Linked DNA regions of Homo sapiens. The protein of the gene in region 2 purifies or fractionates together with the protein of the main gene of each other region. This does not show direct contact. Each region holds a gene or a part of one and is shown on either strand. Other genes may lie near its edges.

The links. The genes of interacting proteins can lie anywhere in the genome.
Region 1: the proteins of PUM1 (region 2) and SEPHS1 fractionate together in Homo sapiens (co-fractionation; 2 studies listed by BioGRID). This does not show direct contact.

The regions. Positions count from the first base shown.
Region 1 is NC_000010.11:13,345,294-13,352,593, forward strand, and holds the start of SEPHS1 (selenide, water dikinase 1), read right to left. Parts: upstream 3,001-7,300; 5' UTR 2,707-3,000; intron 2,407-2,706; exon of another isoform or gene 1,984-2,406; intron 1-1,983. UniProt on the Homo sapiens protein: Synthesizes selenophosphate from selenide and ATP.
Region 2 is NC_000001.11:30,931,003-30,936,739, forward strand, and holds the end of PUM1 (pumilio homolog 1), read right to left. Parts: coding exon 5,641-5,737; intron 4,775-5,640; exon of another isoform or gene 4,687-4,774; intron 2,341-4,686; coding exon 2,209-2,340; 3' UTR 504-2,208; downstream 1-503. UniProt on the Homo sapiens protein: Sequence-specific RNA-binding protein that acts as a post-transcriptional repressor by binding the 3'-UTR of mRNA targets.

The DNA of each region.
Region 1 (7,300 bases), on a different chromosome or scaffold from region 2:
CGTGCCACCTTGAACAGCAAATCCCAAAGGTTCTTCTAGGACTCAGCATTAGAACAGCACCTCTGGGCACTTCATGTGTCAACCTGGAAGCACTGTGGTTCAGAAAGCGGCGGTCCTCGCTAAGGTGACTTTTCCGCAAAATCTTTTGATATCTTTTGCTTTATCACACAGAAGAATGAAACGCCCGATACAAACTTGTCAGAAAAGGGCATTAATGTAAATGCATTGGACAAAATTCTTCACGATGCTAAATCCTTATTTTAGAAAAACACGTTTTCCCTCTGAGCCCAAAGAATATACAACACAAGGATGGGCGTGGTGGCTCATGCCTACAATCTCGGCACTTTGGGAGGCCAACGCGGGTGGATCACCTGAAGTCAGGACACAAGCCTGGCCAACATGGCGAAACCCCGTCTCTACTAAAAATACAAAAATTAGCTGGGCGTGGTGGTGCGCACCTGTAATCCCAGCTACTTGGGAGGCTGAGGCAAGAGAATCGCTTGAACCTGGGAGGCGGAGGTTGCAGTGAGCCGAGATCGAGCCACTGCACTCCAGCCTGGGCGAGAGTGAGACTCCGTCTCAAATAAAAAATAAAAAAATACACAATGCAATCCAAAACTAATAGGAGTCCTCTCTAAAGGGCACAACTTAAAAACTACAGTGGCAGTTTAACACAGTAAGGTCTGTGTTCTTCAGGCGAAAGCCTGGAAAGTTCTCTGATGTTTTCACGCAGTGCTATTTCCTAGAAAGCAAAACATCCAGCCCAACAAACTAGTACACACATCATTGACAAAATATGCTACTCCTCATTAACATTTCATTGCAGAACCGAAACAATAAATTAAGCCATACTAAATCAGCAGCATTTCGGCCCTGTGTACCACCGTTAGGTTTCTGGAACAAGCACTCCTACGTTTTTTAGCCTTTGGGGCTAAAGGAAAAAACAACATGTGTTCCTCGAGTTTACAAACCTCCAGACTGATACTTTATTGGGACTAGAATTACAAACACCCCAAGTTTTAAGGTCGGTTTCCCCTATAAAATTTATGATTAAGAACATAATTCCCATTTATAGAGTTTTCCATCCCTTGGGACGCACATCGCTCATATAAATCTCACGAAGCCCGAGTTTGGGCAGTAATCCAAACCGTCTTCACAAAAACACGGTTTGGGATGAGCAATGATTTCGGTGGGAAACGTAACAACTGAGCAGGAGTCAGCCTTCGAACACGATTCCAAGAAGTCTCCCTGCCCAAAAAGAGCAGGCGCTGGCCGCAAGTGACAAGAGACGAGAATTTTGAAGCCATCTTAGAGTTATGGGAAAGTTTGAATACCACTTTGACTTGGAAGGCGTTTTCAACAAAAACAACAAAGTCCTTTCCTCAAAAAACACCTCGCATTTAACACAGCCTCACCCCTACCAGGAAAAAAAAAAGAAAAAGAAAAAATCCAACTCACGAGGCATCCAGTTATTTTCCTACCTCCTATCTATTCCTCTCCTGGCTCCCAAAAAGGTGGGGAGGGGAATTGTGTGGCTATCACTTCCTTTTAAATTACTATCTTCTCAAGAGTTTTAAGGGTGGAAAAAAGTTTAAAACACCTTGTATCAGGAAGGCGCTCAGATTTAAAATTCCAAATGGTACTAAGGACACAAATCAGCCTCACATCCTAATGAAAAAAGTACTAGATTCTTACATTTTTGGAGGGCATGGGAAGGGGGAGGGGGTTCTGGGGGAAATGTGCAGTGATTAGGGAACCAGGGGGATCCATTTGCATTAATAAGGGACGGTGCCCGGCGACCCCGCAGCCACATGTTTACGCCTTTAAAACAATGGCATGAATATTTAAAGCAACGTTTAGCCCTTTCCTTCCCGGGCACATTTCCATGGTTTGGTTTTTTTTTTTCTTCCAACGAGCGTGGGGAGCCGGGGAGCCGGTCAGCGGGGTGGGCCCGGCGCGCTGCCCCGCCAACCCCGGACCTACCTCCCCGCCGGCCCCGCACAATGGGGCGCGCTCTCCAGGACGCCCGCGTCGGAGGCGGCCGGGGAGGGGAGCAAGGAACCCGGGGACACCTTCGGGCTCAGGCTCAGGCTCAGGCCCTCGCCGCCGCCTCGGAAGGCCCAGCAGGCCCGGGCTGCGGGCCGGCGGCGGGGCGGAGGCGGCAGCTCGGGGCCCCGGCCGGGCCATCCCTGTTCGGGCCGGCGGGAGGCGGCGGGAGCCGGCGGGCACCGCGCGTGCGGCCCAGGAGCCGGGGAGGACGCCGGGACGCACCCGCCCCGGGTCGACAGGGCCCGCGCGGAGAAAAGGGGAGGCGGGGAGGCCCCGGAGGCACCCCGCGACCCCAGGCCGGCCGCTCCCGCCGCGCGCACGGGCCGCCGCCGCCGCCGCGCAAAAATGTCGGCGGGCGAAAAAATTAACCCCTGCGTGGCCGCCGCCGCCCTCCCCTCCGCTCCTCCCCGCCCTCCCTCCCTCCTTCCCCGGCCCCGCGCGGCGGCGGCGGCGGCGCGGGCGGCGCTTCTTTTTTAAAGCGGCCCCACCAAGCCCGGCGCTGCCCCTCTCCAGGCAGGGCTGGCGGGGCCGGCGGCGCGCGGCTCCCCGGCGGTCCCGGGCGGCCCGGAGGGGGATTTGCAACGGCCGCCGCGGGCCTGCGGACCCAGATTCCCCTTTAAGCCTGCGCCTCCCCCCCGCGCCGGGCCCGCCGCTTACCGGCTCGCTTTGCGCCCTCCGCCTCCTCCCGAAAACGGGCCGCGGGCCGCTCCCACAATGCACCGGGCGCGGCCGGGCTCCCTTAAGCGTCGCCTGAATAAAAATGCCGCGCCCGGCGGCGGCGGCGGCGGCGGGGGCCCGGGCCCGCGCCTGGGCGCCGCGGGGGCTCGCCTGCCTCGGCGCGGCCCTGCGGGAGCCGGGCCGCCGCGCTCCCGCCGGCTGGGCGCGCGGGGGTCCTTTAAGGCCGGCCACCTCCCTTTAAGAGGCGGCCCTGGCTGCTGGGTGGCGGCGTGCGGCCCGGGAAGGGGGCGGGGGCGCCGTGCAGCCCCGAGCGCGGCAATGATTGGTCTCGGGGGAGGGGTGGGGGGTTGCAAACCCGAGGAGCGGTGGCATCCGTTGCATGATGCAAAAAAGGATTGATTTCAAAAGTTGCGAGTTGCATTGGCAGCCGCCCTTGGCGCCCGGGCCACCTTTTTCCCGGGCCCCGCTGCAAGGGCCGGGAACGTTTCCGCCACCTGGCCGGGCTCGACCGCGCGGCGCTCTGCGGGGCGCTGTCCCCGCTCCCCGAGTGCGCAGCGGAGCGTCCTGGAAGACAATGACCATGGGAACAATTTGCACAGGAGGCTAGGAGCCCAGGAAAAGCCGCCTGGGCGCCAGGCAGAGGTTTTTTGAAAACACAAACGGCGCGTTAGATGCTTGGGGACTCCCAGCATCTGTCCTTCCTATTGTTTAGCTCGGCTCCGGAGTTCACGGGAGCCTCGTGAAATGTGGAGACGTCCTGCAAAGTTTCTTGAACACTTCATGTGCGTGGTAGGAAGTCGAGGAAAAAGGTTTACGGTTCCCCGCTGGTTGCATTGTTTGTCCTGCACATGTTCGAGCGAACATGGCAGCCGCAACCCTGGATGTGTTCGAATTGACATCGAGGGGGGAGCTTCACGTCGTGAAATAACTTTTTTCTGGGCTTTCGAGATTCTAAAGCATTGCTGATGAAAATAAACCAAATACTTTCAGATATCGTTTAGGGCTTCTCTCTAAAACAGCAGTGTGCAGGAATGCCGATCGAACTTTTCTAGGCAGTAGGTCAGCATTTTCCAAATGTTATTTGGGAGCAGAAATGTTTTGGGTCACTGGACCGTGCTTTACGTGGCACGGCAGGTTGGCACGCTACGCAGATGCCCTTTTCGTTAACATTTCCGCTTGCCAGTTGCTCCGGGTTTTAATCCTGGGCTGGATGCAGAAGTGATGCCACCTCGAAGACAGGCTGCTCCTGTCTTTGTGTACTTTCTTCATACCCTGTAGTAAGTTTGCAAAGAACGTGTTAGTCTGCATTCTTTTATTTTATATTTATTTATTTATTTATTTTGAGACGGAGTCCCACTCTGTCGCCAGGCTGGAGTGCAGTGGCGCGATCTCGGCTCACTGCAACCTCCGCCTCCTGGGTTCAGGTGATTCTCCTGCCTCAGCCTCCCCAGTAGCTGGGATTACAGGCGCCTGCCACTGGAGGATGGCTTCTCCCAGAGGGGAAGACAGGGTCACGGTTCTCATTAAGAGGGTATTGTACTAGTCAAGCCCGGAGATGTACTTGAACTGAAAGCAAGGGGAATGCAGCCCAGGGAAGGGATTTGGTGTGATTTAGCACGTAGGAAGGAGAGGAAGAAGGATAAGATGACCCCCAGGTTTCCAGTTTGCGGGGGTGGGGGGTGGGGGAGGGAATGAGGAGCGATGCTAATAATTTATCTAAGAACTGCTGAAAGGCAAACAAGTTTCGGGGTGAGTTCAGCTTTGGAAATGTTAAATCTGAGGTCTGCCGGATGGTGTGGGGGTGGGGCTCAGAGTTGCAAATCTCAGGTCTGCCGGATATTCCAGACCAAAGTTAATAGGGAAACAGGTCCGGAATTTGGTGTGGGGATGGGGCTCAGAGATGCAAATCTGGGTGCCATCAGCATGTAAATGGTGTTCGAAGCCTCCGTAAGAGGTGAGATTAACCCCGAAGGGAGAGCTCAGGAAAAAAGTGAAAGAGACCTTGGACAGAGCTCTGCAGAACTTGGAAATCAAGTGGCTGGGCGGGACAGAGGCCGATCCCCGCTGCGTCGGTGGGAGGCCACCATCCTCAGAACCGACTCTTCCTCCCCGCCTCCACCCACCACGAGCTCACCGGGAAGCAGTTCTCTGCCGCAGAGGCCGTAAGCCACAGATGCCTTACTTCATCCAGGGCCACACTACAGCCTTGGCCCAGATCATCTGGCAGAGTCATGCATCCTTTTCTTTGCCGGTGATGAGAGCTTCTTCCTTGGGTACTGCTTTGAGCTAGTCCTACGCTCCCCCGCAACTCCCGGGCTCACCAGAACCCCATTCTAGGGAGCCATCCCCGCTGGATTCTCAGGCTCTGCTGGTTCCGTCCAAGAGATGGTTCTCCTGGGTTGCATTGTCTGGTTGGGGCTTATTAAAAATACCAGTTTACCGCTGAGCAGGGTAGCTCAGGGTGCCTGTAACCCCAGGGCTTTGGGAGGCCAAGACAGGAGGATCACTTGAGGCCAGGAGGTTGAGACCAGCCTGGGCAACATAATGAAACCGCGTCTCTACAGAAAATTTAAGAAGTAGTCAGGTGTGATGGCGCATGCCTATAGTCCTAACTACCTCAGAGGCTGAGGTAAATCATTTGAGCCCAGTAGTTCAAGGCTACATTGAGCTGTAATCGTGCCACTACACTCTAGCCTGAGTAACATAGCAAGACCCTGTCTCAAACAAAACAGAACAAAACAAAAAGAACTAATTTACCAGCTTCACTCACTTGAAAGATTACAGCTAGCAGATACAATGGGTTGAATTATGTCCACCACAAAAGGTGTGTTGAAATCCTCACTGCCCCCCATACCTGTGAATGTGGCCTTACTTGGAAATAAAATATTTGCAGATTTAATCAAGGTAAGATGAAGTCATACTCAATTGTGATATGCCCTAAATCCTATGGCTCATATTCTTAGAAAAAAAGGAATATTTGGGCTGGGCGTGGTGGCTCATGCCTGTAATCTCAGCACTTTGGGAGGCCAAGGTGGGCAGATCACTTGAGGCCAGGAGTTTGAGACCAGCCTGGCCAACATGGCGAACCCCATCTCTACTAAACGTACAAAAATTAGCTGGGCGTGGTGGCATATGCCTGTAATCCCAGCTTCTCGGGAAGCTGAGGCAGAAGAATCGCTTGAACCCAGGAGGCAGAGGTTGCAGTGAGCTGGGATCATGCCACTGCACTCCAGCCTGGGTGACAGAGCAAGATGTCTCAAAAAAAAGAAAAAAGAAAAAGAAAGAAAGAAAAGAAAAGGAAGATTTGGAGACAGCGGCACAGAGGAGACACAGGGAAGATGGCCATGCATGTGAAGACCGAGACAGAGGTTGGAGCAATGCAGCTACAAGCTACAGCGGAGGTTGCCGTCAGCATCAGAAGCTGGGAGAGGCAAGGAGGAATTCTTCCCTAGAGCTTTCAGAGGGAGCGTAGCCCTGCCGACACCTTGGCTTCCCGCTAGCAGCCTCCGGGATTTAAACTACCCAGCTTGCGGTCCTTTGTTATGGCAGCCATGGGAAAAGACTCCAGCAGGTCGGAGGTGTATGTGGTGGGGAAGGGATGTGAAGAATCCCCATTTTGCCAGGCTCCCTGGGTGATTCTGATGCTTTTGAAGAACACTGACCTAAGAATTCCACTTCCTCTGAAACCCAGAGGGACGAGAGGCTGCCTGTTCTATACCCCACATCCTGCTCACCCCAAAACAGAAAAGCAGCTCCAGTGACATCACCTTCCTGTCACCTGCCCTTCTCATTCGGGGCTCATGCCATCCAACACTGCCACCATCTGCTGCCAGAAGTGTCACTCCCCTGCATGGTTTGAATCATGCCCATTCAAAAGTGGCCCCTGCTCTGTCATCCCAGGGGATGGAGAGGGTCCATTCTCAGGAATAGCACCTGCTAGATGATGGATGTGCAAATCTGATGACCTTGACCTTAACTCCACTTTAGACACCCATTGTCTTGGCCGTGCTGTGAACCTTCTCGGCCCTGGAAATCTTTCATTTTTTATTCGTTTAGAGATGAGCTCTCGTTATGTTGCCCAAGGTGGTCTCAAACTTCTGGGCTCAAGCAATCCTCCCACCTCAGCCTCCTGAGTAGCTGGGACTACTACCATGCTTAGCTAACCCTGGAAATCTTAAACACCAACACCCTCTCCCCCGTCCCTGAGTCCTCTCCCTTCTTTACATAGGACACCCACACTCTAACTTCATGGGGGCCACCAGTCTCCTGAAGTGGATCCGTTTCATTCTGTTCAGCTTGGACCGTCTGAGGGTAGTTCTGCAGCCTCATCTCACCTCAACCCATTTCATTGACCATGTTCACCCCCACATGTCCAAACTTAAGCCCCTCTACCTGCCTTCTTTGTCCTTCCACTGGGCTGGAGGAAACTCAGAACTTAGAGATCCTGCCATGATGGGCATGTCAGCCCCCAGTGCCAGCCGGGCTTTTCTGACACCTCAGAAATCATTGAGTATGTTATTCCTGATGTTCATTATTCTCCCCAAGGGCTGGTTCACACTTTGCTGCCTTCAAG
Region 2 (5,737 bases):
AAGGGCAGATGGCATCCTCAGGCTAGGGCCACGGGCACAATTGTGAGCTCCAGCCTCCTGTGTTACAAGCTAAAAGAGGCTCCCCAGTCTGAAGAGATGAGCATGCTCAGACATTGGACTGCTTGGCAGGCCTCAGTAGTGGGCACAGGTTGGCAGGGAGCAAATGGAGCAGCCCAAACAGAGGAAACGCGGAGGAGGAGAGGCCCAGACAGACGGTGCTGTAACCCAGACAGCTCATCTCAGGGGCCCAAGGAGAATATTCTGATGTGCAGAGTTGGAAATCTGGATTTGTATGTGCAGTATCTTGATTCTGAATGCACTGGGCAGGCTGAACCAAACATCTTTGGTTTAAATTGGGCTCAAAGAGCCATTAGTTTGGCACCTCTCCTCCCACCCTCACAAAACAACAAAACAAGCAGAAAGAAGCATGAGCAGGAAAGGGCTGTCCTGGGGAACTACACTGGGGGTGGGGTGGGGGGAGAGGTTAAAATAAAGCACAAACCCAGATTCCAAAGTTCTGTATTTTTCAAAATAAAGATCACACATTGTTTAGAGACAATCTACACAAGAGTTACAAAAAATAGTTGCCCAGGCATAAGCATACACAGGTTTGTTAATTATACACATATGGTTACAAGTGTGCTTGCAAAAAAGTTCATTGGAAATATACACAAGGCTCTGGAAATGTACACCGTGTAGTGTTACAATTCTATATTCAAACAAGGAAAATTGACAGTATGTTACATTCACTTACAAGTAGACAAAATGCAAAATACAGTTCATCTTCTGTACAAAAGGGAAGGGCGATTCACACTTTACAAGGTGAGAGGGGCTCTGATTGTAAGGAAAGCTCGGGCAAGGCTAGACTTTTGCACGTCCTTTTGACTGTCACAAAATCAAAACATTACTTTTTTAGGATTAAAAAAACACTAGTGAGAACTCAATCTTGAATAACATTTAGAAAGAATCTCGCTATACTTGAGACTAGATGACAAATAAAACCAAGCTATTTTTTTCTTTTTAAACATTAACTAGGCTGTATAAAGAACATTTATTCCTTCAAAAGAAAAAAATTTACTTCTGGTTGAAATTACAATTTACAATATACAACACTATATGCTACGACCATAAAAGGTGAGAATATACACTGAATGCACAGGGCTGGCTAATTCTCTTTTCTTACCAAAAAACGTGTTTATGTTGATTCAAACTTCTCCACATTTACATTACAGGTATACAAATGTACAATTGTACAATCAAAAGTATGTTCGACTACTAGGGTACATTATAGATACAGATTAGACATCAAAACAAGAAAATACTACAAATTTGTATATATGCAAAGTCTACACCAAGTATACACTATATATTTATAGAAGCAAGACCAAAAGCAGAGTTGGATTTTTTTTTCTCATGCTAAATAATCAGATTTTACCTTTCAATGTTAATAGAAAAAAATCCAGTAGGCAGTAAACAATCACACCCGCCCAGCCTCAAAAGACGTTCTGGGTGCTCGCATCTCCTCCTCACGAACAGCCTTCTTCAGCATAATATAGTCTCCAAAAAAGGCATTTTTTAGAATTTCATAAACTTAATGTCACAAACTGAAGCTTTAGCAACTCTGAAACCTTTTTCATTATATATATATATATATATATATATATTTTTTATAAACAGTGTTAAATGCCAGTTTGGGGTCATTTAACTACAATTCAAACTTCTCAGGTTTTTTTGTTTTTGTTTGTTTTTTACTAAAATGAGGAGGTGGGGAAGAGCTATTTGCAAAACTTGCCGGCCAGGCAAATGAGCTAAAAACCTTTTCCTTTTTTTCTTTTTTTTTTAAAGCTTTTTTTTTTTGTTAAACCAACCACCCTGAAAGTTTCCACATGTGAAATATAGATACAACAGTGAACAAAATATGTGGCCTCCCATGTACATTGGTTACCTATGTACAAGTATCCTATACACCAGTAAAACAGCAGGGCAATTAGTCAATTAAAAAAAATAGTACATGTTATGTGTAATAAAATTAAATTTACAAAGGCTTTTCCACTCGTGGATTTGATTCCTTTTTTGGAGGAGGGAGTAATCCTGGAGCAACCACTTGCCCGTCTCAGACTCTACACTAGAACATTTCTGGTTGCTGGTTGGATTTGCCAGTGGGCCAGTGAGGTCAGCGGGAATGAGGGAACAGCGGGTGACACTGCCTCAGATGATACCATTAGGGGGGCCACAGATGGGCCCTAAGTCAACACCGTTCTTCATGTAGTACTTCTCCAGCTTGGCCAGAATGTGCTTGCCATAGGTGTACTTACGAAGAGTTGCGATGTGGGGCCGGATCTGGGGAGGAAAGACAGTCTGTGTTACATGGCCTGAGATGAGACTTGGGGGCAGGCTTCCCGGACATGCATTTGCATGTCATGCATCACACACACATACACACACACACACACACACACACACACACACACACACACACACACCCCTACAGCAATACCTTTCACTGGCTCAGCCCAGTCCCCTGACTTCTAGCACTTTGGCAACCCATCAGATGAGGAGAGGAGCTCCTACCCTGAGTGGTGCCACAGGGCCTGAGGACCCTGGAGGCTGGGTGGCCATGGGCCACTCCCAGGACAACACATGGAGAAAGTGCATCCTAGCTGGGAAAATACACTGCCCACTACCCGCCAGCTGCACAGTGCTTCCCTGCAAGCATGAGCACAGGCCCCTCTGGCCCCATGCACGGCATCCAGGCTCTCCTGAGCAGTGGGGGTTATTTCGGGTCACCAGAATCCTGAGCTCACCACTTGACCCTGTCTCTCCAGGTCACAGTGGATCACAGAAAGCTAATCAATGACAAGAAGAGAAATGATGAACATCATGAGCTGGTGTGATTATCCCCATCTTACTGACAGAAAACATGAAGGCACAGAGTAGTTAAGTCACTCAGCCAAGGTTGAATGGCTAACAAAGGACAGCACAGATAGCTGAGCCCAAACTGTGTGGCTCCTCCACGAATCAGGTTTCTCCCCACTGTGCTCTCAAGGCACGCCCGCCACACCAGCCTCATCCCTCAGGCTCTCCGACCTATGCTCTGAGTCACTTCTCCAAGCATTCCTTTCTGTTCTTCCTTCCCTGGGCTGATCATTTCAAGAAGTCCTACATTCCAGAAAACTTGAGAGGTGCTTCTTCTCTGGAAGCCCCTTTTCTTTTCTGTGAGCTCAGGGAGCATTCTACATACCTCAGCTGTGTCTGCTATCTTTTGCTTAATTATCAATCTTTCCATATAAACAGTAAAGGACCACAGTTTATTCATCAGATTCCCCATCCAAACCTGCACCTGCATACATAAACGCACTGGATAAATGTACCGCAGTAGACAGAGGCTCTCCAGGTTGAGAGCTCCATGAGGGCACCAATTTTTGTCTGTTTAGCTGTGTCCTCAAAGCAAGGAAGGGTTGATCCGGTCTAGAAATCACCTGCGCATGCTTCCCAGGACACAGAGCTGCATCGGGTGTCACATTCCCACTTTGGAGCCTACAGGGGAAACTGGCTGGTGGCAAACAGTCCTTGGTTCCAGTTTCACCTCCCTTAAACTCACCTGTAAAACGGCGTATGCAATAATGCTATACTTTCCTTTCAGTTGTAATACTATGTTACTAATGTTTCTGTCATGAGAACTTGAGGTTCAAGATCCCCTTGCTTTTGGTAGCTTTCCTTTTAGAAAATAACTGAAATCCAATCCATTCCTCTGTCCCTGGAACTGGCTGCTGACAAGTCCAGGCACTTCACCTTTGTACTTCCCCAGAACAAAACAAAACAAAAAACCCCTAACAAGCCACACACACACATGTTGAACTCCATTTTTTATTGGATTTAACAAGAAGTGAAACGTTAATTACCTGCTTCTCTCCTTATGTCCCTTTTGCTGAAAAGGATACCACTTAGTAATGGAAGAGCTGAAAAACTAAGAGGGCTTCTCAGGACTCTCCCCGTCAACTCCCTCAGCCAACCAACTGCTAAGCCCTACCAATTCTAGCACCCTATTCTGTCCACTTCTCTTCAATCCCAAACCACCACCATCTGGTGCCTTGACGGCCTCCCATGTGGTCTCATCACTGCCTCCCTCCTCTAAACTACAAAGGCCACATGGCAGCCAGGACAATTATTTGAAATATACGTGTGATTTTGTCACCACACTCCTCCTCCACTGAACTTGTTTTACTTCTTCAGATACAACACGGTCTGGTCTCTGGCGTCCAAGTCTTCACACACCACGTTCCCTCTTCTGGAAAGGGTCATCACTCTATTAAGTATCACTCCGTTAGAGAGCCTCCTCTGTACCCACACGTTATAGAAGACACCCTGCCCATTCCTGGACAACCCTTTCCCCTGTATTTCTCCAGTGTCCCAGTAACTATCTGTGCACAGCACTATCACGTTTACCAATACAACCCTGCTGAGAATACGACCTGCTGTACAACAGGTGTTTAGCACTGAATGAATGAATGAATAGACATGTCTTAAGCTCCTACTTACCTCCAACATTCCCTCTGCCTTCACCAGCATCCTGAAAACTTACAACTTTAAGAACCTGGGACTCCCCCAGCCTTCAACTGCCACTGCCAACACCAGTGCAGTGGTTTGGATTGGTTTAGCTTGACTCAGGGGTGGTGGGTGTCTTGTCTGGCTCAGAACTTGAGTCCATTAACAAAGATTCTCATTACCGAACTTTGTTCTCAGTGAGGGCAAGTGGGTCATCATTGCCAGACAATGGCCAACCAACCCCTCAATTGAGAAGGGCTCAGTGAGTTCAGAGCCCAAAAGCTGCAGGCTCAGATGAGAAGCACCGGAGGCTGGAGGCACTGCCCAGCACAAACACAACTGTAGCACACCCTGCCTGTGGGTCTGTTTTGCCTCCTGGGCCCTGTGGTGTCTGCAGTGCTCACTGGACCCACGCCGTGACTTGTCAAGAAGCTGTGGGCCTGTTCAGGTGACTTCTCTTTCAGTTCCCCACTCACAGCACCTAAGCATTCTCATTTCTGTTCCTTCTTCCCTGTCTAACTCTTCTTTAGCCTTGCCTTCTCCTGCAAAGCCGGCCCTCAGGGACTCTGGGAAGGGTGAGGGGTCCTTCTCATGTCCTCACCACTGCTCACCACCATGGCTCTTCCCCACCAGAATGTACTCTGTGGGCAGGGATCAGGTGTTAGTCATCTCTGTGCTGATGAAGTCTGGCACAGAGTGGGCTTCAGGTCAATGTACCAGGCTATGCACCATGCTGGGCAGGCCTTTGTTCAATAGATGTTGGTGGGATGAAAGAACAGAAGGGAGGAGTGAGAAAAGGAAATGAGGCAAGTTGATTTGTTGGACTCATAAGCTGATTCTCTAGAGATCAGGGATGGAAATATTTCAAAAAATGTAGCTTAAGATTCTCATACCAGTGTGGCTATTGATAAGGGAGGGTTGGCAAATGTGTAAGGACAATGGTGACTCCACATAAAAGAAAAACAGAACACAGCATGGGACAGAGGTCAGTGACAAACTCTTCAAAAACAGCAGGGCACCCACCCTCCTTTGTGTTTCAGAAAGGAAGCCAAGGCCTTGCACACTTTCTCTGAGACCCTGCCCAGCCCGGCCTACCTTATGCATGACGATCTTCCGCTGGCCTGGCTCCGCCACGTCAATCATCTTCTGGACCACGTAGTTGGCATACTGGTCCTTCATCATGGTGTATAAG